Homo sapiens: one gene and its partners. The protein of the gene in region 1 purifies or fractionates together with the protein of each later gene. This does not show direct contact. Each region holds a gene or a part of one and is shown in the gene's direction. Other genes may lie near its edges.

Region 1 (3,234 bases):
TGGGCCTTGGTGTCCCCTTCTCTATGTGTGCGTGGAAGTAGAAATGGATAAGAAATGGTGGGTCAGGCTGGGCGCGGTGGCTCACGCCTGTAATCTCAGCACTTTGGGAAGCCGAGGTGGGCAGATCACTTGAGACCAGGAGTTTGAGACCACCCTGGCCAACACAGCAAAACCCCATCTCTACTGAAAATAATAAAAAAAATTAGCCAGGCATGGTGGTGCATGCCTGTAGTCCCAGCTACTCTGGTGGCTGAGGCAGGAGAATCGCTCGAACCCAGGAAGTGGAGGTTGCAGTGAGCCGAGATCACGCCATTGCACTCCAGACTGGGCGACAGAGTGAGACTGTCTCAAAAAAAAAAAAAAAAAGAAGAAGTGGTGGGTCACTCCAGGAGAGCTTCCTAGTGGGGTGGGTGTGGGGGCAAAGGCAGATCTTGAAGAATGACTGCAGGTTGCCCAGGCTAGGGGGGGAACAGCATTCTAGATGAGGGAACAGAGAGCTTGGAGGGCCAGGGCTTGGCATGTGCATGTTTGTTCAGAGTTGGCTGCAGCTGGAGGGTGCGGGTGGAGGTGGTGTAGGGGAGACTGAGCACAGAGCGGCAGGCGGGGCCTCTGGGGGAGCGCTCACACCCTAGCCCCTGGACCCTGCGTCTGCCCTGGGAGCATGGGAGAACCTGAGGAGGAGTTAGGCAAGGACACCATGGAGGCCAGCCTGGAGAAGGAGAGGAGAGGGTTGCAGCTCCCAGGAGGGTCATGGCCGTCGAGATGGAGTCGGGCGGACAGATAAGCAAAGAGCCAGGGGCCAGTGCCCATAGGATCCAGGGTCTGGGGAGAGGACTGAGCCAGATCGTAGCCAGCACCGCCTCGGGCAAGAGGGCAGTAAGGATTGGGGAAAGTGACCAGCTCACTTGGAATGCATGAAGGGGAAGTGGCTGCAGGCAGCTGTCTGGCAGGCACCGGGGCTGCCATCATGAGGGTAGGGGTGCCCCACCCAGTGACAGCAAGGGAACAGAGAGCCAAGAATTGCAGGCAGGAGTGGGCGGGGGAGTGGCAGCCTTCCCAGGACCCAAGATTCAGGGCTGACCTCTGAGCTGTGCCGACGCAGTCCCTTCAGAACCTTGCTGGACCTGAGGGTGGCCTGGGGCAGGTGAGATTCCTCCCCAGGCCCAGGCTTCCTGATCAATTACTGTAATGCTGCCAGCCTTCATTTTGAGGCTAGTTTTGCTGGTTTTGAGATTCTCGCATCTCAAAGGGAGAGGGCAGACGCAGCAGGGGTGGAGGTGGAGAGGGTCTGTCCCGTCTCACACATTCTCAACTCCAAGACCATGAGTCACATACTCCCCTGGGATGGGGAGGGGATGCTGAGGGTTGCTGCAGTCCACAGTCCTCCCCTTCACCCCTCCCTCGGGGTCTGTGGCTCCTACCTCCATCCTGGGGACCTGGGGAGGCATCAGAGTCACCCCCGGAGTAACCCCAAGCCCTCCCTCTACTGTCAACCACTTTCTCTCTCACCAGTGCAAGGACAAGGCTGGGAAGACCCTTTGGGGACCTAATTTGGGAACTGAAGGCACTGCCTTGGGACATGGGACCTGGATCTGTGGCTGCAGGCCAGGCAGGCCAGACAGGCCACGGTGGAGGCTCTGGTTGAAACAGAGTCTGTGAAAAGTCCCCGGCTTGGAGAGCTGGAAACTGTGACTGTCCCACAGAAACATAAATAATGGAAAATGTGCATTGGTCCTTAGCGAGGCCTGCCGCAGCCGGTGCCAGAGGACACTCTGGGTGGACGAGGCCCCACTCAGCCGTCTGATCCCATCTTTGCCCACTGAGCTCCCTTAAGAACCCTGCAGGACCCTCCAAGCTTGAGGGGGCAGGCCCTTGCAGGCCCAGGAGGACACGGACCTGGGCAGGCCTTCCTGTACCCTTGGCAGAGCACAGGCATCTTGTCTCTAAAACACTATGCAGGTGTCAGTGAACGTCACAAGCTGGAGGAAAGAGTGTGTCCAGAATCAGGCAAAAGAGGCTCTGCGGTGGGGGACCTGAGGTGTCTCCCCTCAATGATCCAGAGCTTGATTATAGTGCATGATGGGAAATCAGAGTAGCCCTCATGGTGGGGTCCCCAGGTCATTGCTTTTGGTCCCTACCTGATGCTGGGAGGAAAGCCCACTTCATGGAGGAGAAAACCGAGGTTCAGAAGCTACTTGGCCATCGGGGGGGCTGGCAGGGTCAGCCCCAGGTTGATGTCCTCCTGGTCCAGGATGTCCCCCTGCCCCCACTTGCCCCTCATCACCCCTGGGATCTGCATGTTCAAGCTGGGTATCCCGTTCCCTGAACATGACTGTGTCTCTCCCTTGAACAGCATCAAAGAAAAACTTATGACCCAGGCAGACCGCTTCAGTGAGGAGGAGGTAAACTGGGATTCTGGTGGGTCACGGCGGATTCTCTGCTCTGGCCCCCACTTGGCCTGGTGCAGGCTGACTCTCTGCTCCTTCTCAGGTCAAGCAGATGTTTGCAGCATTTCCCCCAGATGTGTGCGGCAACCTGGACTACAGAAACCTGTGCTACGTCATCACTCACGGTGAAGAGAAGGATTAGGGGATCACAAGTCTCCCCGACATTCAGGGGCAGCAAACACTGTTGTGGGGTGTGACAGGGAGCTCTTGCAGCCAGAGGCTGCAGGAAAAAGGCTTCCCTTGTCCTACGGTTGGGGACAAAGCAAGAATAAATAATGCTAATGAGGTCTGAGTTTGTGCGGTAAATGCTCCAGCGAGGGAGAAAACGAAACATTCCTATCTTGTTGGTTTTTCCAAACCTTTTTTGTTCCTCTGGCTCTGCTCAAATGTTCCCGAGGAGCTGGTGTTTAGAGCTAATTGACAGTTTTAACGATTCCCTGCTAAGCCACGGGATATTGCCTTCATTTATGGAGCTTTTATTAAGCACCTAGTGCATGCCAGAGGCTGTGCTGGTCCCAGGGACTCTCAGAGGAGCCAGGACTGTCCCTGGGCAGGATATGGTGCTGACTGCAGTGAGGAAGGCAGAGGAGGGGGCAAAAAGTGGGGTGGGGACATCGGTGGGAGGAGAATGGAGAAGCACGGGAGAAAACTGGCTGCAAAGAGCTGGCTAGAGGTGAAGACGTCAGAAGGGAAGAGGTGGCTTCAAGGGATGTTTAGGGGGTAGGCAAGGATTTCTTAAATGGGACACACATAACTGTGATCATAAAAGTGGATAAGTTGGACTTCA
Region 2 (3,500 bases), on another chromosome or scaffold:
ATGGGGTTTCGCCATGTTGGCCAGGCTGGTCTTGAACTCCTGGCCTCAGGTGATCTGACCGCTTTGGCCTCCCAAAGTGCTGGGATTACAGGCGTGAGCCATCGCGCCCGGCCTATTTTTGCATTTGATTCTTGCAGTAGCCCTGTGAGATCAGCTAAGCAGATGTTATTATGCTCATTTTATATGCAACAAAACTAAGAATGTTGGCTCTGATTGTGCCATGTACTATCTAACACTAAGGAATATTGCCTGAGATATCCAAAAATGGCACCATTGGATGTTAATTTATCTTTGGAAAGAATATCTTTGGCAGTATCTAGTAAATCTGAGCATACACATACCTTATGATCCATAAGTTCCATTCTTAAGTTTATTTCAAATAGGAGTGAATATATTTGTTCACCAAAAGACATGTAATAGAATGTTCATAACAGCACTGTTTGTAGTAGTTCCAAACCGGAAATTACTCATATGTCCATCAACAGTAGAATGGATAAACTGTGGTGTGATCACGCACTCAACTTCCATATAGCACCAATAAACTATTGCTAAGCAATGATGAAACTCCTAAACATAATATTAAATGAAAGAAGCCAGACACAAAATGAATACATATTGTGATTGCAATTATATAAAGTTTTATATAAACAGGCAAAACTAATCTTTGGTGATAGAAGTCAGGATGGTAGTTACCCGTGGGTTGGGGGATGGGCGTTACTGGAAAGGGGCATAAGGGAGGGTTCTGGGGTTCTGGTAATGATCTGTTTATTGACCTGGGTGCTAGTGATATGGATGCGATTACATCATGAAAATTCATCAAGCTTACGATTTGTGTACTTTTTCCGTAATGTATAGTATACTTCAGTAAAAAGTTAATTTGCCTTAGGCAAAACAGAAACCCATTATCTTAGGCAAGGTTTTTCAGTGGCTTCCCATGGTACTCAGAATAAAATCCAAAGTCCTTACCATGGCCTGCATGGCAATATATACATGATCTAGCCCCTGACTACCTCCTCCACGTAATTTCTCCCACCATTATTCCCCTTGCTTACTCAGCTCCAGCCACGTGACCTTCTTACTGGTCGGCAAACAGAATAAAACTCCATTCCACTCCAAGGCTGTGTTTTTGCTTTTCCCTTTGCCTGGAATGCTCTCCCCTCAGCTTGTTACATTGTTGGTCTCGTATCATACAGGTAACAGCTCAAATGTCGCTTCTTCAAAAAGTCCTTCACTTAACACTCCATGTGAAATAGATTTCCCAGTCGCTCTTTATTATATAACACTATTATTTTTTCATAGCATTTATAGCTAGCTGAAATTACTTTGTTTATGTATTTATTACTTGTTTATCATCTATCTTCCTCAATAGAAGGTAAACTCTGTCCAAAGACTGAGGTCGTGTCTGCTGTATTCGTCCTTGTATCTTTAATGCCTGACGCACTGCCTAGCATGTAGCTGGTGCGCATATAAATGTTAGGGTTGAACGAATGATTGAAGATCCCTGGGTGAATGGTCCACTAGGCTATAGCTGGGATTCCTCCCACAAAGGGAGACACTTAAGTTGTAAGTCATCCTGTTAAAAGGAAAGCTTTGTTAGTACAACCTCTCTTGTCCACCCCACCTCAGCTTGGTGAGGAGAAAGCTCAGCGCTTTCCCCAGTGCTTCCATGACCTTTGGCCAGTAAAGACTTAAAATATCATATCATAAGATGAGAGAAACAGTTGGAACTTAACTTCTATCCCGTATCCTTAGATTATTCAAAGAAAAACAAAACACGGTCAACAGGCAGTGGAACTCCTCACTCCAATGTGATATTCCTGAGAGAATATTGACTTATCGTCACTTCGTCTCTGGGACAAGTATTGAACATAGGGGAAGCCTTATATAAAATTGTTCAATAAACAAAAGATGTCTTTAACATGTGTTTGAGATCTTTCTTCTCATGATTCCATGTTAGGTACAACAACTATGACCGGGCTGTCATCAATACCGTTCCTTATGATGTCGTCCATCGCTGGTATACAGCACACCGGACTCTAACGATAGAGTTGAGGAGACCTGAGAATGAGTTTTGGGTCAAACTAAAGCCTGGCAGGGTGGGTCCTAATCTCTAAAGATGTCAAGCAAGCTTGTAATACTGAAGCAGTGAAGAACGGGTACTTACTTAATATGTGAGTCACGATGTTGCAAAGGAAAAAGAGAAAAGAGTCCTTGGTTTTGTTTATGGTCCTGCCGCCCACTCACTGAATGCTCTGGAAGCAAGCCTCATCCCATCTCTAAGGCATCAGTGACTCTATTTGTATGATGAAGGGGTTTAACTAGATGACCCCCAAGGGTCCTTCCAGCTTCATGATTCCATAGTTTTTATTTTTGGTATTTCCTCTGGATGAAAAATACCTTCAGCTTAGCATAAAATGTCATGAGATAATTTAACCCTTTGAGAAAGGGTAGAATAAGAATTAAAGAAAAAGAAAAAGAAACAAACCAATTATCTGATTTACTTTGATAAGAGAACAATTACTTGAGAAACAGAAGCTCCTCCAGTGCAGGGCCCATTACCTACTGTTGCCTCTGTAACTTCCATTTAGCCTACTACAGGGCTATACACATCTTAGTTTCCAAAAGTTTGTTTAATTTCAAAAGAAAAATATCTCATTTAATGCAACCAGAAAACAACCTAAAGGTTATCTTTTAAATGATCTCTTCTGACTTAGGGTTCCTTTGGTCTGTCCTTCTTCTGACAGTGTTTTCTCTCTCTTTTTTTTTTTTTTTTGGCCCATTCACAGGTCCTATTTATAGACAACTGGCGTGTCCTACATGGCAGGGAATGCTTCACTGGCTACCGCCAACTGTGTGGCTGCTATTTAACAAGAGATGATGTATTAAACACTGCTCGCCTCTTGGGGCTTCAGGCTTAAAATTGACAGCATCTGGATTATGAATACACCTGGCACCCTGGCTACCAGAATTTCATATGGGCAGAATAATATTGTGTCAAACTCTACTTCAGATTGTCTCCTTATCCCATCCCACAAAACAGAATCTGTCCGTTTCTCTAGTAAGGGAGACTTGTTGGAGAGGCGGGACTCTGAGTTATCTAATGTCAGACATCTAGTGGGGCAGCTCTCTTCCTCATGTTATAACATGGATCCACTTGTTTGATTTAAACCTTTTAATATAATTTTGGTCAGTCTCCTTCAGAAATATAATCTCCATATTGATAGGAAAGCAATAATTGCCATGAGGTAACGATTTTTTTCCCAAGTAGATCAGTTAGAAAGAAATGCATTCTAGAAATAACAAAAATCCTGATAAAGCAACAATTTGCAAAATGTTTGGTCTTAGGACACCTTAACACTCTTAAAAGTTATTGAAGGCCCCAAGGAGTTCTTGGGTGTGGGTTCTATCTATTGATACTAATTATTTTAGGTATTAAGACTGAGAAATATTTAAAGCTCAAGAAGAACACAGAAGCACACATCCCTCAGCTATGAGAGAGA
Region 3 (3,500 bases), on another chromosome or scaffold:
TAGATACCATAATCTTTTTCCATTAGTACTGAAAATGTTCAGCACTCATTATTACATTCAGCAGGCTGTAACAGTGTAATAGTGGGATATACTCTGGATTGGGCACAAAAAGATCTGGAATCTAACCCCTGTTATGCATTTCCTAATGCCCTGTTCTTGGACAAGTCACATATTCTCTGAACCTAAGTTTTGTCATCTGTATAGTGCAAATGATGACTGATTTACTTGACAAATTATGTGATTGTCACACATGAACAATTCTCAAAAATCTTTAAAGTTTTAAATTTAAACCATTAAACTGAACATTTTAAAGCAAAAACTGGATATTTAAAAAAAAATTCCATTCTATACATTTTAGTAGAAGGACTTAGTAGAGGGTTAGATCAAAGAGTCCTTATGTTTTTTATGGACTACAAGTTGTTGCAATGACAAGGTATTTGATAAGAATTCTCAAATATTTATAATAATGATTTGTTCACCTTTGCCTTAATATTAAACATCTCTAAGAAGATATTTCTTATAATAAATCAGACTCAAGGAAAATGAAGCAAATAATCTTTTTTTTTCAGTATGGCAAATTTAATTCCAAAAGGCAGAATAGACACCATAATAACCTATTTCATTCATTCATTCATTTATTCTTTAATAAACACGGAACCTCTACCATGGGAGTATACAGGAAGAATGATAAATAGAAATAAGTGGATCATAAGAGTATAGTCTCTGATTTCAAGAAACTTACAGACTTCAGAATTCTGAGTTCACAAGTCTGGGAAAGTCATCAAAGCTAAATAGTTTTATTTTTACTTGCAAATGAATTTGGAAATCAAAAGTATTAAATTGTAAAGCTTAAGTTCCCTATGAATAGAAAAGTGTTCAATAAGTACTCCTTCTAACATTAATCCACTCATTTTTTAACAATGGTGACCTGTGTTATAATTAAGCTAGGAACCTAACAATCCAAGTGTCCTCTCTGATACTTCAGCTACGAATGAGCACTGGTAGTCATTATTTCTTTTGAAAGGCATTCATTTTTAAGATTTTATATTCTGATTTTCACATAGAAGTATCTATTTAGTTCCGTCTTGAGGAGCTATTGTCATTTGATTAGAAATTGGCAACTATAAAAACTCCTACAATTAGAATAATTTACTTACATTGTAGTAGCTTTAAAGATAGTCACAGGAAATATAACTCATTATCATATTGGAGCCTCTGTACACGTTAGATGTAAGAGTGGGGATGGGGTTATCACACACTTTTAAGAATAACTATTTTATTGGACTTTTACTACATATAGACACATTTTAGGACGGATTTCATCTATGGCAAACTACATTTTTGAAATATTAATTGTGTTCAGTCCCAAATGAGCTGTTGCAGAATTAGTTTGCCTGATGGACAACTTTACATACTTTTGGCATGCAATACTTCTCTAATTGGGAGATGGCCTTTCTTTTGAACATTTTAATTTTTTCCATTTTTTATATCCCCAATTTTCTAAAATATAGATTCATTTATTAGTCACCAACAACGCCTTGACATTATGAGCTTCTTGACATAAAACTCTTGAAAAAACTATAGTTTAAATGTCCTAGACTAGGTTAAGTGAGTGAGGTACCTGAGATGCAAAATTTAAGGAGGCTGTCACTGTTAGTGTCATGGTGTATCTCTTTGAGAGTTAGGCCCTAAGCACATCACTCAGTACCCTAGTCCCAGCTTTGGGTCAGAAGCTAAGCATTCTGGCTGTAGAACTGCCCAAGGGACTAGTACTAATCTTGACCTGTGCTTTCCTCTCCCTCATTCCAATTTGCTCATGTCTAGCCAGACTTTCTGACGATCTAGAGGTGACATTAGGTCTTATTGCTATGGAAATGGAGACTATTCCTCTGCCTTTACATCTGTATTAGACTTTCTTCATATTTCCAACCTGTTCCAAAAATTGAGGGGTGCTGTAGAAAGTTTTCAGTATCTCTTAGGCAATGGGCATGCTAGAATTCACTTCAAGCCTTCAGGAGGAGTTTGGTATGCTACGCTGACTGCCCTTGATGGGATTTGTATTTCCTGGGGCATTTGCAATGACGGAGGCCCGAAAAAAGCTGCGCGGGCCAAGGTCAAAGTTTGTGTTAGGCTCCTTAGCCCTAGGGATCTTTAGCTTCCATTTGATTTTCTTCATGTGATCTAAATGAGTTGAACTTATAAAAATATTTTCAAGGCTACTCTGTTTGCTTTTTATTTTTTTCAACTTGTTAAATGCTATACATTGATCTTTTAAATTTCATAGGGAGGTAACTGACTAATTTGAAGTTCTCATAAATGAATCAATAGGGTTGCTACATTATGAAAGAATTTTACTAAGTTTCTTCTATAATGCAGACTGAAATATAAGACCATTTTAATTTATCACCACCATACAGTAAAAATTAGCTTATGATATGTAGGTTCCTCCAGGATTCTGAACAACTTGCCACATAGCAGATGCTCAGTAAGGCATATTAATAAACCTACACTTTATGAACATACTTTGTAATGAAATTTTTATAAATGCTGTATTTTATTTACAATGAGAAACCTTATTAGAATAAAAATGATTCATAAATCTTAATCTTTTGTTTATAAATGTTCAAACATAAAAGTACTTAAGTAAATTAACCTTTTGATTTTGTCCCCTTAACATTGGCTTATGTTTAACCAAAGACCGATGACTTAATATTAACTTGGAATGTTGTAAGATTATTAACTGAGAATGTGGTAAGGCCTAATTGATTACTGCTGTTACAGTGCTTCAGAATTTTGAAGTGTTAGGCCTTGTAACTGCAGAGAAGTCTCATGAAATATTTCAAAGACAAATTGTGCTGAAATTCTAAATTTCAAAAATCCATATCTTAATAGTGTAATTCCAAGAATAAAAGAATAAGATTTCATTTACTTGATTTTAACTTTTTACCATATTATCTACACAATAATTACCTGAAATAAATTCTGGCTTTAGGCTTTCTACTTTTCAGTGCTTAGTTCAGATTTATTTTTTAAGAGGATGAGTACTGAGGCGAACTAATAGCTTAGAAACATCAGGTAAGCCAGAAAGCACGTATGTTATATAGCCTTAGGCCTTGGTGAAAATGGAAAAAAAACATGTGGGGCCTCTACTTTTTCTGAAGTGCAAATAGTTTACGTAGATAAATGATTCAACAGCAATACCATAATCCCAGAGTAAATTATTTTCATTTTTACTACTAGCTCAAGGGAATTACTGACTTTTAAATGGTGTTTTTTTTTTTTTTTCAAACCTTTTATGGAATCTATTGCTGAATTAGCTTAAGGCTTTACAGGCAGAACATTTTAGTGGTGGAGTCTCATATCTAGGAGAAGAAACATTTCTGTTCCTCCCATTTCACAGATATGTAAGTGCTGAAGTTAAAACAAGGACACATGGATGCCTGTTTTTGTACGTAAAACAAAATATACATTAGCAAATTTGGTTAGAATTTTAATTAGGC
Region 4 (3,500 bases), on another chromosome or scaffold:
AATGTATTTGTCTCTTGACAGAATATTTTTTTTCTCATCTCATTCTGTGACCCAGGCTGGAGTGCAGTAGCATGATCACAGCTCATTGCAGCCTTGAATCTCCTGGGTTCAAGCAATCCTACATCCTCAGCCTCTCAAGTAGCTGTGACCACAGCCATGTACCACCACACACAGAGTGTTATGTTTTGTTTTGTTTTGAGATGGGGTCTCACTCTGTCACCCAGATTGGAGTGCAGTGGTGTGATATTGGCTCAAGGCAACTTCTGCCTCCTGGGCTCAAGCAGTCCTCTCATCTCAGCCTCCCAAACAGCTGGAACCACAGGTGTGTGCCGCCATGCCCGGCAAATTTTTTTTGTATTTTTTGGTAGAGACGGGGTTTCTCCGTGTTGCCTAGGCTGGTCTCAAACTCCTGAGCATAGGAGATCCACCCACCTCAGCCTCCCAAAGTGCTGGGATTATAGGTGTGAGCCATCATGCCCGGCTGGCACACAGCTAGTTTTTAAATTTTTGTAGAGATGGAATTCCCCTATTTTGCCCAGGCTGGTATGAAACTCAAGCGATCTTCCCACCTCAGCTTCCCAAAGTGCTGGGATTATAGGCATGAGCCACCATGCCTGGCCAACAGATTTTTTTTTTTTGTTAAATTATAGTCATGCCCTGTTGTGGAATCCTTGCAGCCATTTATTTATTTATTTATTTTAAGCTTTCAGGATTTGTATTAAATCCTAGTCTAATTTAACGGTATCTGATGTTACACACATCATCTCATGGTGAACGTGTTTAATAAGCGAAAGCAAATCAGACAGCTTATCTAAGTCGTTATTTTTTGTGGACTAAACAGTAAGGTAACAACTACCCAGAACCCTATGGGTCATGATGGACACTTGCTCAGTTTTCATACAAGCTGTGTTGGTTATCAAAGTATATCTGCTAATATTTAATAAAGTGAAATGTCATTGGGGTGGAAAAGTCAAGCCTAGACATTTGGTTGGAAAAGAACAGATCAAGTATGGATTTCACAAACCAAAAGTTTATAAACTCAATGCAATACAAGTCCTTTCTATTGTAAAAGCTTAGTTGAAACTAAAAGATCTGTAAAAACTATTACTTTGGGCCTTAAACAGTACTAGCTCTTATGAGCAAAAAAAGGACACAACTGCAGCCTGGGCAACGTGGTGAAACCCTATCTATATTAAAGTACAAAAATTAGCTGGGCTTGGTGGTGTGTGCCCATAATCTCAGCTACTTAGGAGGCTGAGGCAGGAGAATCAGCTGAACTAGGGAGATGGAGGTTGCAGTGAGCTGAGATTGTGCCACTGCACTCCAGCCTGGGAGACAGAATGAGACCCTGTCTCAAAAAAAAAAAAAAAAAAAAAAGGAGGGGGGCCATAACTGTTGAGAATGTATTACTTGGTTTTATTTTACATTAGGTGGTAGGTACAAAGCAATCCTTCTTAATAAAGCTGACAGTTAGCTTCCCTTAGGACTTTTTTTTCCAGACAGGGTCTTGCTGTGTCACCCAGGCTGGAGCGATGCAATCATGACTCACCACAGCCTTGACTTCCTGGGCTCAAGCAATCCTGCTTCAGTCTCCCAAGTGGGTGGAACTACACACATGTACCCACCATGCCCGGCTAATTCTTTTTTTTTCTTAAATTTCTAGTAGAGACAAGGTCTCGTTACCCAGGTTGGTTTTGAACTCCTGGGCTCAAGCAGTTCTCCTGCCTTGTCCTCCCGAAATGCTGGGATTACAGGAGTGAGCCACCGCACTTGGACAGAACATATTCAATAATGCACATTTAAAACAAGTATTCATCTTACAAGTTGTTCTGTAATCCAAACATATGACAGCTTGGAGAACAACATTTAGAAAACAGAAGCCAATGTAAAAAGACAGATTAATACAACTAGAAGCCAGGCACGGTGGCTCACGCCTGTAATCCCAGCACTTTGGGAGGCTGAGGTAGGCAGATCACCTGAGGTCAGGAATTCGAGACCAGCTTGGCCAACGTGGTGAAACCCCATCTCTGCTGAAATTAGCTGGGCATGGTGGCGTGCACCTGTAATCCCAGCTACTTGGGAGCCTGGGAGGCAGAGGCTACAGTGAGCCAAGATCACGCCGCTGCACTCCAGCCTGGGTGACAGAGCGAGACTCCATCTCAAAACAAAAAACAAAAAAACCCAACTAGGATAGTGTAGGTTTTGTATGGCTCAGACTTTACAGTTTTCTTACTGCATCATCAATGTATCGATTAGAATATCTGTTCCAGCTAGGTGCGGTGGCTCATGCCTGTAATCCCAGCACTTTGGGAGGCCAAGGTGGGCAGATTGCTAGAGCCCAGCCTTCGCAACATGGTGAGCCCCCATTTCTACTAAAAAAAATACAAAAATTAGCCAGGCATGGTGGTGCACGCCTGTAGTCCCAGCTACTTGGGAGGCTGAGGTGGGAGAATCACTTTACCCTTGGGAATGTCTAGGCTGCAGTGAGCTGTGATCACTCTACTGTACTCCAGCCTGGGTGACAGAGTGAGACCCTGACTCAAAAAAAAAAAAAAAGAAAGAAAAAGAAAAGAAAAGAAAGAAACCCTGTCTCTACTAAAAATACAAAAAATTAGCTGGGTATAGTCGTGCATACCTGTAGTCCTAGCTGCTCGGGAGGCTGAGATGAGAGAATCACATGAGCCCAGGAAGTCAAGACTGCAGTGAGCCATGATTGCACCACTGCATTCCAGCCTGATCAACGAGAGTGAGACCTTGTCCCCTGTCTCAGTAAATGAATGAATGAATGAATGTTTCTTCAGCTGGCCCCATTGCTGTGGATTTAAAGAAATACCTTTTCTTCCTGGTTTTATTTAACCTTTGAGATCCATCCAATAATCTCTAATACCATCAATTAGCACTTCCCCTTTAACATCCCAAACACTAAGGTACCTCATTTTCCCAATCTGAAACATGTTATCAGCTGAGTACAGTGGCCTGTAATCTAATCACAGCACTTTGGGAGGCTGAGGAGGGTGGATCACTTGAGACTAGGAGTTCGAGACCAGCCTGGGCAACATGGTGAAACCCCATCTCTATATGAAATTTAAAAAAGAAAATAAACATGTTATTATGTTTACTGCCGCTGCTCTGTTTGGAAGATGACAGAGCTCCCAAAGTTTTGCCAGTCTTTTGTTCCTTTACAAGTTTTTCTGGAGCAACTTACTTTTTCTTCTTTAACTTTTTGTCAAACTCACTGTCAGAATTCCTGCCAGAAGAGCTTGAAGAAACAAGTTCCTTTGATTCAGACATAATGCTGCCCTGCTTCTGCAGCTGAACACCCTCCTGTTCACTCATGTGCAACTGACTCATTTGTAAAAATTTCTTTTTTGGCCGGGCACGGTGGCTCACACCTGTAATCCCAGCACTATGGGAGGCCGAGGCGGGTAGATCACGAGATCAGGAGTTCGAGACCAGCCTGACCAACGTGGTGAAACCCCATTTCTACTAAAAATATAAAA
Region 5 (3,250 bases), on another chromosome or scaffold:
AGAAACGGGATTTCACCATGTTGGCCAGGCTGGTCTCAAACTCCTGACCTCAAGGGATCCACCTGCCTCGGCCTCCCAAAGTGCTGGGATTACAGGCGTGAGCCACCGCTCCCAGCCCCAATATTTCCTCTTAAAGAGCTCAGAATCTAGTGCTGGGTGGGGGTGGGCTACTGAGGTGGGCCAGAAGAGAAGGGACAGTGCTTCAGCTCCCTCTGACCCTCACCACTCTAGGAGCACCAGAAGGTGGAGCTGCTGCGGAAGGCCGTGCAGGCCCACCGAGGCTACACCGACCGGGTAAGTGAGCCCGCTTGTGCCTACTCACTTGTCCCTTAGTGTCAGCCATCTGTCTGTCCCTCTGACTGTCCGTCCCTGCAGCCAATGGCTGCCAACCCTTTGCTAGGACCACATCTCCCCCAACCTGGGAGCACCTGGAGCCAGGCTGAATAGCCCCCAACTTTTTCTTTTTTTTTTTTTTTGAGATGGAGTCTTGCTCTGTCGCCCAGGCTGGAGTGCAGTGGTGTGATTTAGGCTCACTGCAACCTCCGCCTCCCAGGTTCAAGCAATTCTCCTGCCTCAGCCTCCCAAGTAGCTGGGATTACAGGCACCCACCACCACACCTGGCTAATTTTTCCATTTTTAGTAGAAACAGGGTTTCACCATGTTGACAGGCTGGTCTCAAACTCCTGACCTCAGGTGATCCACCCACCTCAGGCTCCCAAAGTGCTGGGATTATAGGCGTGAGCCACCGTGCCCGGCCAAATATCCCCATTTTAAAGTTGGAGAAACCCAGCCTGGGCCCAGTAACTGCCTTGGTTCCAGGTTCCAGGGCTGGCCTGGGCCCTAGATGTTGGGTCACACTCTCTCCCTGATGCTAGGTATCTCTCCCTGACGCTAGGTATACATGGTCCAGCAGACAGCCAGTTTCCTGCCCTCCAGCAGCTTGGGCTGCAGTCAGGGAGGTGGCTGTCTGGATGCGTGTCCTGGCTCTGTCTCTGAGCACCTGTGTGTCCAGGCTCTGACCGTGCTACATGCACACGTCCATTTAGAGCTCACCGCCACCCTGCGAGGGGAGTGTAGGACTCACCCCTCTTTACAGATGAAGACACTACAGTTCCAGAACCTAAGCAACCTGCCAAGGCCCTGCAGCCAGGATGGGGCTAGGTCACCCAGCTCCAGGGCCCTGCCCTACAACCCTGCACTTTCCTGCCTCCCTGGGCAAATCCCCGCCCCTCCCTGAGCCTTGGTTTCCCCATCTGTGAAACGAAGGCTCTCTCTGGCCAGAATACTCTGGTCTTGTGGTTTTGAGTGGCCAGTGCCTGCGAAGGGTGGCGCTGCCACAGGCTGAAGAGGGCAGGGATACCCCGGGGGTCCACAGCCCCTGCTCCTGACAGCTCTCCCACCCCAACAGGCCATCCGCGGGGAGGCCTTTGATCGACACCTGCTGGGCCTGAAGCTGCAGGCCATCGAGGACCTGGTGAGCATGCCCGACATCTTCATGGACACCTCCTACGCCATCGCCATGCACTTCCACCTCTCCACCAGCCAGGTGGGCCACTGCCCCAGGTGCCCCGGGGGCTGGAGGCAGAGAACCCACTGGTAGTTTGATGTGGCCTACACAGGCCCCACTGACCCATTGCCAACACAGCTGAGTTCCAGAGGAGGAGCTGGGGGCAGGGGCCTCTCTGCAGCCCAGGCAGGCTGAGAAGGGGTCAGTGCTCCTCATGGGAGAATCAGCTTCGCTGACTCACTGGTCAGGTATAAAGGAACATTTGATTCGTGCCAGCCTGTAGTGGTTGCTGGGATATAGCAGGGGACAGACCATGATCCCTGCCCACAAGGGGCCTGCAGTCTTGGCGGAAGCACAGGCAGCCTGGGAAGTGCTGGGGGCGTCAAGGTAGGGGAGCTGAGAGCTTTCATCCTGCCGTCCCCAGGTCCCTGCCAAGACAGACTGTGTCATGTTCTTCGGGCCCGTGGTCCCCGACGGCTACGGTGTCTGCTATAACCCCATGGAGGCCCACATCAACTTCTCCCTGTCGGCCTACAACAGCTGCGCGGAGACCAACGCCGCCCGCCTGGCGCATTACCTGGAGAAGGCGCTCCTGGACATGCGTGCCCTGCTGCAGAGCCACCCCCGGGCCAAGCTCTGAGCCCCTAGGACTCAGGCCTGCCAATGCCACAGCCAAGCCCACCCTGGGATGGGCCACCCACCAGGGCTCAGCTCCTTGGTTCCCTCTTCCTTGGTTCCCTCTTCCCTGGTCCCCCCAAATCTACTGAGCCACGGACCGCATCCTCCAGGGGGCCTGCAGGCCCCAGCCAAGTGCCTTCCGTGGGTCATCCCAGCACCTGCCAGGGCCCGACCTGGGGCTGAGTGCAGAGGCTGAGCAGGACGTTAGGCCCGGGCCCCTGGCACGTCCTCCACCGGTGCCTCCTCTGGGGAAGGGAACCAGCCCTCCAGAGCAGGAGACTGGCAAGAGCTCTTTGTCTCACCAGCTCAGCCCCGGCCACTCCCTGCCAACTCCATGACCAGGCCACCATCTGTACCCTGCTTCCCAAACTCCCAGGACCTGGAGACAGGATTGTCTGGGGCCGAGGGGCCAGGGTGTGAGGTTTCACCTCCGTTGCGGCTGTGCTCCTGTGGATAACATTGCTAGCGAGCCGCCTCTGGTTCCACTCAGCTTGGTTCCTGCCCCCGCCCTGCTGTATGATATTAATGTGGAAGGTCATCAATAAAGGGGAATTGTGTTGGTGAAGAGGTGTTTCAGCTGAGAGGCAGGCAGGGTGGGGGCAGGCACCTGGCCTTGCCCTCTTCAGCTTTCCCTGGGCCTCGGAGCTGGTGTCCAAGCAGCTGGTGGGCCTGAGGGCTTTGGCCCAGGAGCCAAGGTCCAGCTGTGACCTTGGGGCACTGGGCCCAGAACCATACCAGAGCCAGGGCTGCGTCCTTCACCAGCAGCTTCCCACCTACCTCTGGCTTGGGCCTTCCCAAGTCCCATGGGTTGTGGGTAGGGGCAACTCTCCCAGGGGACTGTGGGGCCCAGCAGGCCCAGGTCTGGTGGGCTGATGAATGTTGCTAATACCCAGGGGCCCAGGGTGTCATTCTACTTCCCCCAACTGAGCCCAGCAAAAGTAGGAGTACAGCAGCAGGCTCAGCTTGCCCCAGGCCCAGCCGCTGCCAGGACAGACACCTTCGGGGGTGGGCAGGTGCGATCAGAGCAGAACCACATACCTGCCCATAGCCCCGTGTCCATGGCTG
Region 6 (3,500 bases), on another chromosome or scaffold:
ACATATAGGTATACTTATGCAAATATATCTTAGGATAAATTCTTAGAAGTGGAATGGCGCAGTCACTGGATAAGTACCTTTTAATTTTGGTAGTTGTTATCAGATTAGTCTCCAAAAAAGATGTGCTAATTTACATTCCCACTGAAAGTATAAGAATGCCCATTACCCCATAGTACGTTGGGTATTGTCAGACTTTGCAGTTTTTGCCTTTCTATTAGATATTAAGAGAAATGAAAACTCAGCCCAAGGGTTTTATATTAGCACATAAAATGTTTTCTATCAAGTGCCTTTGATAAGCATAAGAATCAACCCTGGGAGCTTTAAGATAGCACACTTGAAAATAGAATTAATCTATGAATTATAATTCTATATTATTATGTTTTATTAAATTGGTCTGTAACCAAAATCTTACTATAATGACTTCTGAAACATCTCTTGTGATCAAAAGCATATTCCCCAATATATGAGCTACATTATATAAAGGCAATAAAGTGTAAAAGAAACTCTGATTTCACAGAAAATGTAAGAAGAACCGATTTTCATTTTAAATTATAAGACTATAGAATAGAGTTGTCACATTTTGAATTTGACATTACACTTTTAATTTGAAAATACCCTTGGAAAAACTTGTTTACTTGCAGGAGGAAAAGGAGTGAGGGAAGAGACAAAATACTTTCTGGTTCCAGTTAATTTCAAATATCTGAAATTTGCTTACAGTAAATGATGTTGAAAATAAATTGACTTTAAGGAAACTTCATGCAAAAGCATAAGGCTATTTTGTGTCTGTACTTGATTATAATGCTTTAGGGAGAGGGAAAACCTTTCTTTTAATCTATTAAACTTAGAATTCATGAGCCTTTCTTGGCTGGGTACTCTTAGAACTAAAAATTTAGGTTGAGGTAGGAAGTGGGAGGTTTAGTGGTACCTAAGAATAGGCAAAGATGAAGGAGAGGTGAGCCCTGTTCTCAAGAAACCTTACCATACACATGGAAAGTCACTGATATAAACAATTACTATAAAATGTGATGAGAGCTCTAATAGATTTATATACATTCATACAATTTATTTAGGAAATTTGATTTTTAAAAATATGCTTTCATTTTAAAGCCCTTCAAATCTAGGTTTTTGTATTAATGAAAGATTCTGACTTATTACTAAACTCACTGATAAGACCTATATTGTAATAGGAGAGCAGAGTCCCAATGTGTCATTGATGCAGAGAATGTCTGATATGTTATCAAGATGGTTTGAAGAAGCAAGTGAGGTTGCACAAAGCAATAGAGGACGAGGAAGATCTCGACCCAGAGGTAATTTTTAATGTTAATTAAAGTCATCAGAAAGCTGGCAAAAACTACTTATTGAAGCCAGTTTTTATTTCTATCATGTAAATTATACCATGTTTTACATCTGTAATAATCACAAGGTTCTTATTGTGTGGTGTGAAGTAGTAGAGAATAAAAGATATTGGATATAATTTGTCCCTTCTGGTGCCATTGGACCTAGTGCGTATCTTTTGCTTTTCTCAAAGTAAAGTAGAAGAATCTGAGGTTTCCTATTTTAAGCCTTTTTTTAATGCACTCTGAGAATGGAAATATATAAAATTCTGTGTATAAACAAGTTTTATGTAATAGGAAAGATTGATTGCTTTAACAAGAATATGTTGTAGATAAGTTTTTATCCCTCTTGACTGGCCTATTTTGTCAAATGGGCCAAATCACCAGTAGTTATTATCACTGAAATTATATATTTGTGTGTGTAAATATAAATGTGTTTTCTGAGCATATCTGTTTAGAGTTGTTGGTTTTAGAAAATATTTAAAATTTGAATTTGCCTTAACATGTGTTTTGAAGGTGGAACAAGTCAATCAGATATTTCAACTCTTCCTACGGTCCCATCAAGTCCTGATTTGGAAGTGAGTGAAACTGCAATGGAAGTAGATACTCCAGCTGAACAATTTCTTCAGCCTTCTACATCCTCTACAATGTCAGCTCAGGCTCATTCGACATCATCTCCCACAGAAAGCCCTCATTCTACTCCTTTGCTATCTTCTCCAGACAGTGAACAAAGGCAGTCTGTTGAGGCATCTGGACACCACACACATCATCAGTCTGGTGAGGATAAGTATGCTGTGGTTCATCTAATGATTTTTGATAGTGAAAATTTCTTTACTGGCTATTTTGAAAGATACTAAATCACATCAACTTCTTGTTGGAATAAATGATCAAAATGACATGTAATATATGGTTATGTAACTTAAACACAAAAATTAATTATGTCTTACTTGCATGAATTTTAACAAATAGCAGGAATCTTCAATTTATATAAAACAATTGTTTTAAAAGTACAAGTACCAAAAGATAGTGTTTTGACATAGTTTAATGTGCCTGACTTAAATATTATTTTATAGATTATTAGAGACCAAAATATCTTTCTAGATTTATTTGGTTTTATGTCTATATTAAAGTGATTATGAAAATATCAGTATTAGTTTCACTTTGCTTATATTCTTGATTATTTCCCTCAAATAATGCAGTACTTTTAATATACTCTCTATGGTGGATTTGATATGGTCTTTTGTCAACAACATATAATTTACCAAAAAATTTGTTTCTCTAGTATTTACATGAAAAAGAATTATTTTACCAAATGCTTATCTTCTTGATACTTGATGCTAGTGAAAATAACCTCTACGTTCTGTTAAAATGCTATTTTTTTCTCAGTATTATAAGTCTTTATGGTCAACTTTTTTCCCCTAACTATGGAATGTGCTAGTATTTATAATAGTAATTTTCAGCAGATGTATCTACAGTTTACTCGGTACTTTAAACTATATACATGTAATTATAAAAACCAATAAGATATTTATTCATAGTTTTCTTTGGTTCTTCTAAGGAAGAATTTTACTCAATATAGAGCCAGAATTATTAGCAACTAGAAATATAGCTGGCAGGCCTAAGCTGAAACCTATAAAAAAATTTCTAACAGCTTAGCTGCCAAGCTGTCACTTTATTCTTACATCTCTGGAAACTGATGCCAGATTACCAAATATGGGATGTTTTAATTTAAGCACTCTTTTATCAGTATATACCACTTTTAGTAATTCATTTTCAGTTTCTATGGGAATAAAAGCCAGAGTCAGTTACATAACTGTTAACACTGTATACATTTTATCCATAATAATAAGCTAAAGCTGAGCTACAGAATCAAGGTTTTCACACTCAGTTGACATAGCATTTTAATTTATGGAAAAATAAAATATTTTGGAAGATTTGGGAATTAAAAGCAGAAGTAGTTAAAAGTTTGTTTTTCAAAGCAGGTAAAATTGGGAAAAGCAAGAATTTTTAAAGTGATATTCTTGAACATATTGATCAATTATAAGTTTTTAGGAAAACTTAGCAAGAAGACTCTAGCTTACATTCAGCTTCCACTGAATCTCAACTAATTCTAGTTGTTTCTTAAATATATTTATGAGTAAAGTATTTGGAACTTTATTTTTTAAA
Region 7 (4,002 bases), on another chromosome or scaffold:
GGATTTGCCAACACTTGGGGCAAAAATGACTGAGACACGTAATTGAAAAGCAGGGCGAGGAAACAGAATGTCCCTCCCCTCCTCCCTGGCTGGTGGTAGTTTTGTATTGGATCAGGTTGAAAGGATTCGAGCCACTTTAAAACAATCAACAAAAATCTCCAACTTCCGTTCCTGAATTAGCAAAGCGAGTTCTACTCTTGCCAGCCGCGGTAACTCTAGAAATTGTGTATGTTTGTCACTGGACCTGCCTAGGACGCACCTTGGGGGAGAGGGGGAGTACTGGGGGCGGTGGTTTCAAGCTCTGTGTGCCCCTCCTTTGCACAAGGTAGTCGGTGTAGAAGAACAGAGGCGGGCAGTGGACATAGGGGAGGTGGCCCAGCCTGAATTCAAGCATCGTTGGTGCAAGCCACGCTCTCAAGGCGCATTTCCTAACTTCCTAAAGAAGTAACAACAGCAACTAACTTTTATTGACTGTTGACTATAGACAAGGCTTCGTTGTTGCCGCTTTACGTGCATTAATTCATTTAATCTGCAAAACAACCAAACATGAAACAGCAGGAAGGAAATTCTACAAACTCCCCTTCTTGCTCAAGTTAAGAAAGTCTCCTCTTCTGGTGCATTTCAGTAAGACTCAAATCCTCCCCACCCTGGGAGGCGCAGAAAGCCAAACTTCCTCCAAAAAAAAAAAGGCAAAAAAAAAAAAAAAATCACTTCAGTCCAGGCTGGGGGTATCTGGCTCCCCGGGAGGCGCCCGGGCTCCCCGGGGCCCTGGCAGACGCCGGCAGCTTTTCTGGGCCCGCACTCGGGGACCTCGCCCGCCCGGCATCGCGATTGTGCAAGCGCCGGGCGGCAACCACGGCCGCCGCTGCCGGCTCCTGCCCGCCGGGGGAGGGCGGGGAGGCGCGTTCGAAGCACACCCGGTGAACTCCGGGCTTCGCATGACTTCCTGGGGGTTATCTCCGGGGTGGAGTCTGCCGCCCCCACCCCACCTCCCGCGCCCAGCGAACATAGCCCCGGTCACCCCAGGCCCGGACGCCCTCGCTCACCTCGCTGACTCCATCCTCCTTCCACCCCCCCTCCCCTGGGTCCCGCGTCCCTCGGAGTCTGGCCAGCCGGGGGCCACTCCGCCCTCCTCTGCGTGCTCATTGGCCACCCAGGGCATGCTCTGTCTCCATAAATGCATGGTCCCTGGGCATAGGAACATGGAGAGGGACAGGAGGAAACGCAGCGCCAGCAGCATCTCATCTACCCTCCTTGACACCTCCCCGTGGCTCCAGCCAGACCCTAGAGGTCAGCCTTGCGGACCAACAGGAGGACTCCCAGCTTTCCCTTTTCAAGAGGTCCCCAGACACCGGCCACCCTCTTCCAGCCCCTGCGGCCAGTGCAAGGAGGCACCAATGCTCTGAGGCTGTCGCGTGGTGCAGCGTCGAGCATCCTCGCCGAGGTCCTTTCTGCTGCCTGTCCCGCCTCACCCCGCTCCATCACACCAGCTGGCCCTCTTTGCTTCCTTTTCCCAGAATCGTTAAGCCCCGACTCCCACTAGCACCTCGTACCAACCTCGCCCCACCCCATCCTCCTGCCTTCCCGCGCTCCGGTGTCCCCCGCTGCCATGAGCTCCCCCATCAGCAAGAGCCGCTCGCTTGCCGCCTTCCTGCAGCAGCTGCGCAGTCCGAGGCAGCCCCCGAGACTGGTGACATCTACGGCGTACACGTCCCCTCAGCCGCGAGAGGTGCCAGTCTGCCCGCTGACAGCTGGTGGCGAGACTCAGAACGCGGCCGCCCTGCCGGGCCCCACCAGCTGGCCACTGCTGGGCAGCCTGCTGCAGATTCTCTGGAAAGGGGGTCTCAAGAAACAGCACGACACCCTGGTAAACCCCTTTTCGCGCCCCTGACTCTCTCCTCCCTCTTCCGCCCTCCCAGTGGCGCTCCAAACCCTCCCCGACATGCGCGCCTCGGGCGCATGGTGCGCTTCGGCGTCTGGGCAGGGAGGGTCCCCGGTCCCCTAGGAGGAAGGAGGCGGGAGGAGGGAAAGCGCTTCGGGCACGGCGGAGGATGCGCGCTGACACCGCGCTGTGCCCGGCCGGCTGCAGGTGGAGTACCACAAGAAGTATGGCAAGATTTTCCGCATGAAGTTGGGTTCCTTTGAGTCGGTGCACCTGGGCTCGCCATGCCTGCTGGAAGCGCTGTACCGCACCGAGAGCGCGTACCCGCAGCGGCTGGAGATCAAACCGTGGAAGGCCTATCGCGACTACCGCAAAGAAGGCTACGGGCTGCTGATCCTGTGAGTCCAATCCGAGGGACCTGGGCATGCGGCCAGACCTGATGAGCCTGACGGCGCCTGGAAATTGTGAAGAGGCGGAGTTAGAGTTCCCTGGGGTTGGAAGCTTCTTACGTAGGGCGGATACCAAAGCCCCTCTCCCGTGCCATCGCAACCCTGAGCTCTTGTACAGATTAGAGTCGGTCCACGGAAAAGCCGTGCTGTGCACCCAGCACCTGCGTTCTCTCTGGCAACAGGGCAGGGCCACACCCTCCCATCAAAGAAACGCCAAAACAGGGTTGTACCAACTGTGGTGTTCAGACTCTTGGGCAGGATGAGGTTCTGAAGTCAGCGTACCAGGCAAACATCTTATACAAACAAAATTATCCCTTAAAACTCCCTGAAACACCTTGTAAGCTCAAAAGCGAGGAGTTAGCCTCTTTGGCTTTTTACAGTGACATTTTCTGCAGAGGATTGGGGGACATGCCTTATTTCTACTTGTAAAGGTGGAATAAGGAGGGATATCAAAGTTGTGTTTTAGGTCGACAAATGCTACTATGGGATGTGATTCTTCTGCTTTTTAGTTGTTAGCATTTAACAAGTTAGCACCTTTATTTACCCCCAAACTGTAATGCCTAATCGTTATATTTTCCAGGATATAATGACTGGAATTAAAAACCCTATTAATTCACGGTGCTTCACAGGCTGTATGGTCTGCTATGGGGCAGGTGCCTACAAGTGCACGATCGCAAAAGGCTTTTTATTACTCCAGTGACTCTCTGACTGTATGTTATTATTTGGAGGCGATGGCAAAATTCTAAATCTGAGATATTTTGTAAATATGAAGCCCACACCAATGAGTTGAAAGAAGACAAGATTCTTCCCTCAAACAGATCTGAGTTGCTGGTGATGGGGTGTTCACATGCCCCCTTTTACCGCTAGGAATTGTCCCCAGGCCTCCCAGCCCCACTCCCTGCAAGGACACCTCAAAATCCCTGAACCCAAATTATCTGGACTTCAACTTTTTGGTGCAATCTTTGACTAGGAGGAAAGGTGCTTTTTCATCCTATTGTCAAACTATTGTCAAAAGATGATCACTATTTTATCCCAAATATTCTGATGCTAATATTCTCTGGCTATTTCTTGGCATGATTCTCAGTGTTTGTTTGATTTTATGGTTCCTGAAGTTGCAGCTGGAGTATTTCTGCATCTCCTTCTTTTCTTTTCAGTGTGCTCTAAATGTATTCCTGCTTCTCTCACAGGGAAGGGGAAGACTGGCAGCGGGTCCGGAGTGCCTTTCAAAAGAAACTAATGAAACCAGGGGAAGTGATGAAGCTGGACAACAAAATCAATGAGGTCTGCAGGCTGGGGCCAGCTTTCCTGGGGCTCGTGGGGACATAGGGATATTGGTGGAGCTTCAAGTCACAGCTACAAAGAACAAAGGAAAAAAGAATGCAATTCGGGTGATTCAAAGTGGGGGTCTTCTCTTTCTCTCCATTCCTTCCTACAGCCTCCTCCCCACCAAACCCTTATTTCTCCCTCCTCCACCCTCTTTTAAAGTCATATCACAATGAGGGAGCAATGGAGAGTGTGGACTTTGGTATTCTACAGCCCTGGATTTGAACCCCAGCTTTCCACTCCCTGGCTATGAGACCTGGCTATATACCACTTACCTTCCCTAAGCCTCAGTTTCCCCATCTACAAAATGGGAGTAACAGTTCCCACCCCACGGGTTTGCTGTGAGAA

The links.
Region 2: the proteins of MYL10 (region 1) and TMLHE purify together in Homo sapiens (affinity purification with mass spectrometry; one large-scale study listed by BioGRID and IntAct). This does not show direct contact.
Region 3: the proteins of MYL10 (region 1) and CPS1 purify together in Homo sapiens (affinity purification with mass spectrometry; one large-scale study listed by BioGRID and IntAct). This does not show direct contact.
Region 4: the proteins of MYL10 (region 1) and EARS2 purify together in Homo sapiens (affinity purification with mass spectrometry; one large-scale study listed by BioGRID and IntAct). This does not show direct contact.
Region 5: the proteins of MYL10 (region 1) and CRAT purify together in Homo sapiens (affinity purification with mass spectrometry; one large-scale study listed by BioGRID and IntAct). This does not show direct contact.
Region 6: the proteins of MYL10 (region 1) and DCAF6 purify together in Homo sapiens (affinity purification with mass spectrometry; one large-scale study listed by BioGRID and IntAct). This does not show direct contact.
Region 7: the proteins of MYL10 (region 1) and CYP24A1 purify together in Homo sapiens (affinity purification with mass spectrometry; one large-scale study listed by BioGRID and IntAct). This does not show direct contact.

The regions. Positions count from the first base shown.
Region 1 is NC_000007.14:101,612,830-101,616,063, reverse strand, and holds the end of MYL10 (myosin regulatory light chain 10), read left to right. Parts: intron 1-2,353; coding exon 2,354-2,402; intron 2,403-2,490; coding exon 2,491-2,589; 3' UTR 2,590-2,734; downstream 2,735-3,234.
Region 2 is NC_000023.11:155,490,953-155,494,452, reverse strand, and holds part of TMLHE (trimethyllysine dioxygenase, mitochondrial isoform 1 precursor), read left to right. Parts: intron 1-342; exon of another isoform or gene 343-1,573; intron 1,574-1,752; coding exon of another isoform or gene 1,753-1,888; exon of another isoform or gene 1,889-1,918; intron 1,919-1,957; coding exon 1,958-2,096; intron 2,097-2,786; coding exon 2,787-2,918; 3' UTR 2,919-3,500. UniProt on the Homo sapiens protein: Converts trimethyllysine (TML) into hydroxytrimethyllysine (HTML).
Region 3 is NC_000002.12:210,559,599-210,563,098, forward strand, and holds part of CPS1 (carbamoyl-phosphate synthase [ammonia], mitochondrial isoform b precursor), read left to right. Parts: intron 1-3,500. UniProt on the Homo sapiens protein: Involved in the urea cycle of ureotelic animals where the enzyme plays an important role in removing excess ammonia from the cell.
Region 4 is NC_000016.10:23,536,851-23,540,350, reverse strand, and holds part of EARS2 (nondiscriminating glutamyl-tRNA synthetase EARS2, mitochondrial), read left to right. Parts: intron 1-2,175; exon of another isoform or gene 2,176-2,268; intron 2,269-2,796; exon of another isoform or gene 2,797-2,967; intron 2,968-3,118; exon of another isoform or gene 3,119-3,347; intron 3,348-3,500. UniProt on the Homo sapiens protein: Non-discriminating glutamyl-tRNA synthetase that catalyzes aminoacylation of both mitochondrial tRNA(Glu) and tRNA(Gln) and participates in RNA aminoacylation for mitochondrial protein translation.
Region 5 is NC_000009.12:129,094,294-129,097,543, reverse strand, and holds the end of CRAT (carnitine O-acetyltransferase), read left to right. Parts: intron 1-231; coding exon 232-294; intron 295-1,408; coding exon 1,409-1,546; intron 1,547-1,931; coding exon 1,932-2,147; 3' UTR 2,148-2,750; downstream 2,751-3,250. UniProt on the Homo sapiens protein: Catalyzes the reversible transfer of acyl groups from carnitine to coenzyme A (CoA) and regulates the acyl-CoA/CoA ratio. Also plays a crucial role in the transport of fatty acids for beta-oxidation.
Region 6 is NC_000001.11:168,002,683-168,006,182, forward strand, and holds part of DCAF6 (DDB1- and CUL4-associated factor 6), read left to right. Parts: intron 1-1,187; coding exon 1,188-1,307; intron 1,308-1,850; coding exon 1,851-2,111; intron 2,112-3,500. UniProt on the Homo sapiens protein: Ligand-dependent coactivator of nuclear receptors. Enhance transcriptional activity of the nuclear receptors NR3C1 and AR. May function as a substrate receptor for CUL4-DDB1 E3 ubiquitin-protein ligase complex.
Region 7 is NC_000020.11:54,171,187-54,175,188, reverse strand, and holds the start of CYP24A1 (1,25-dihydroxyvitamin D(3) 24-hydroxylase, mitochondrial isoform 1 precursor), read left to right. Parts: upstream 1-1,202; 5' UTR 1,203-1,609; coding exon 1,610-1,867; intron 1,868-2,089; coding exon 2,090-2,280; intron 2,281-3,518; coding exon 3,519-3,612; intron 3,613-4,002.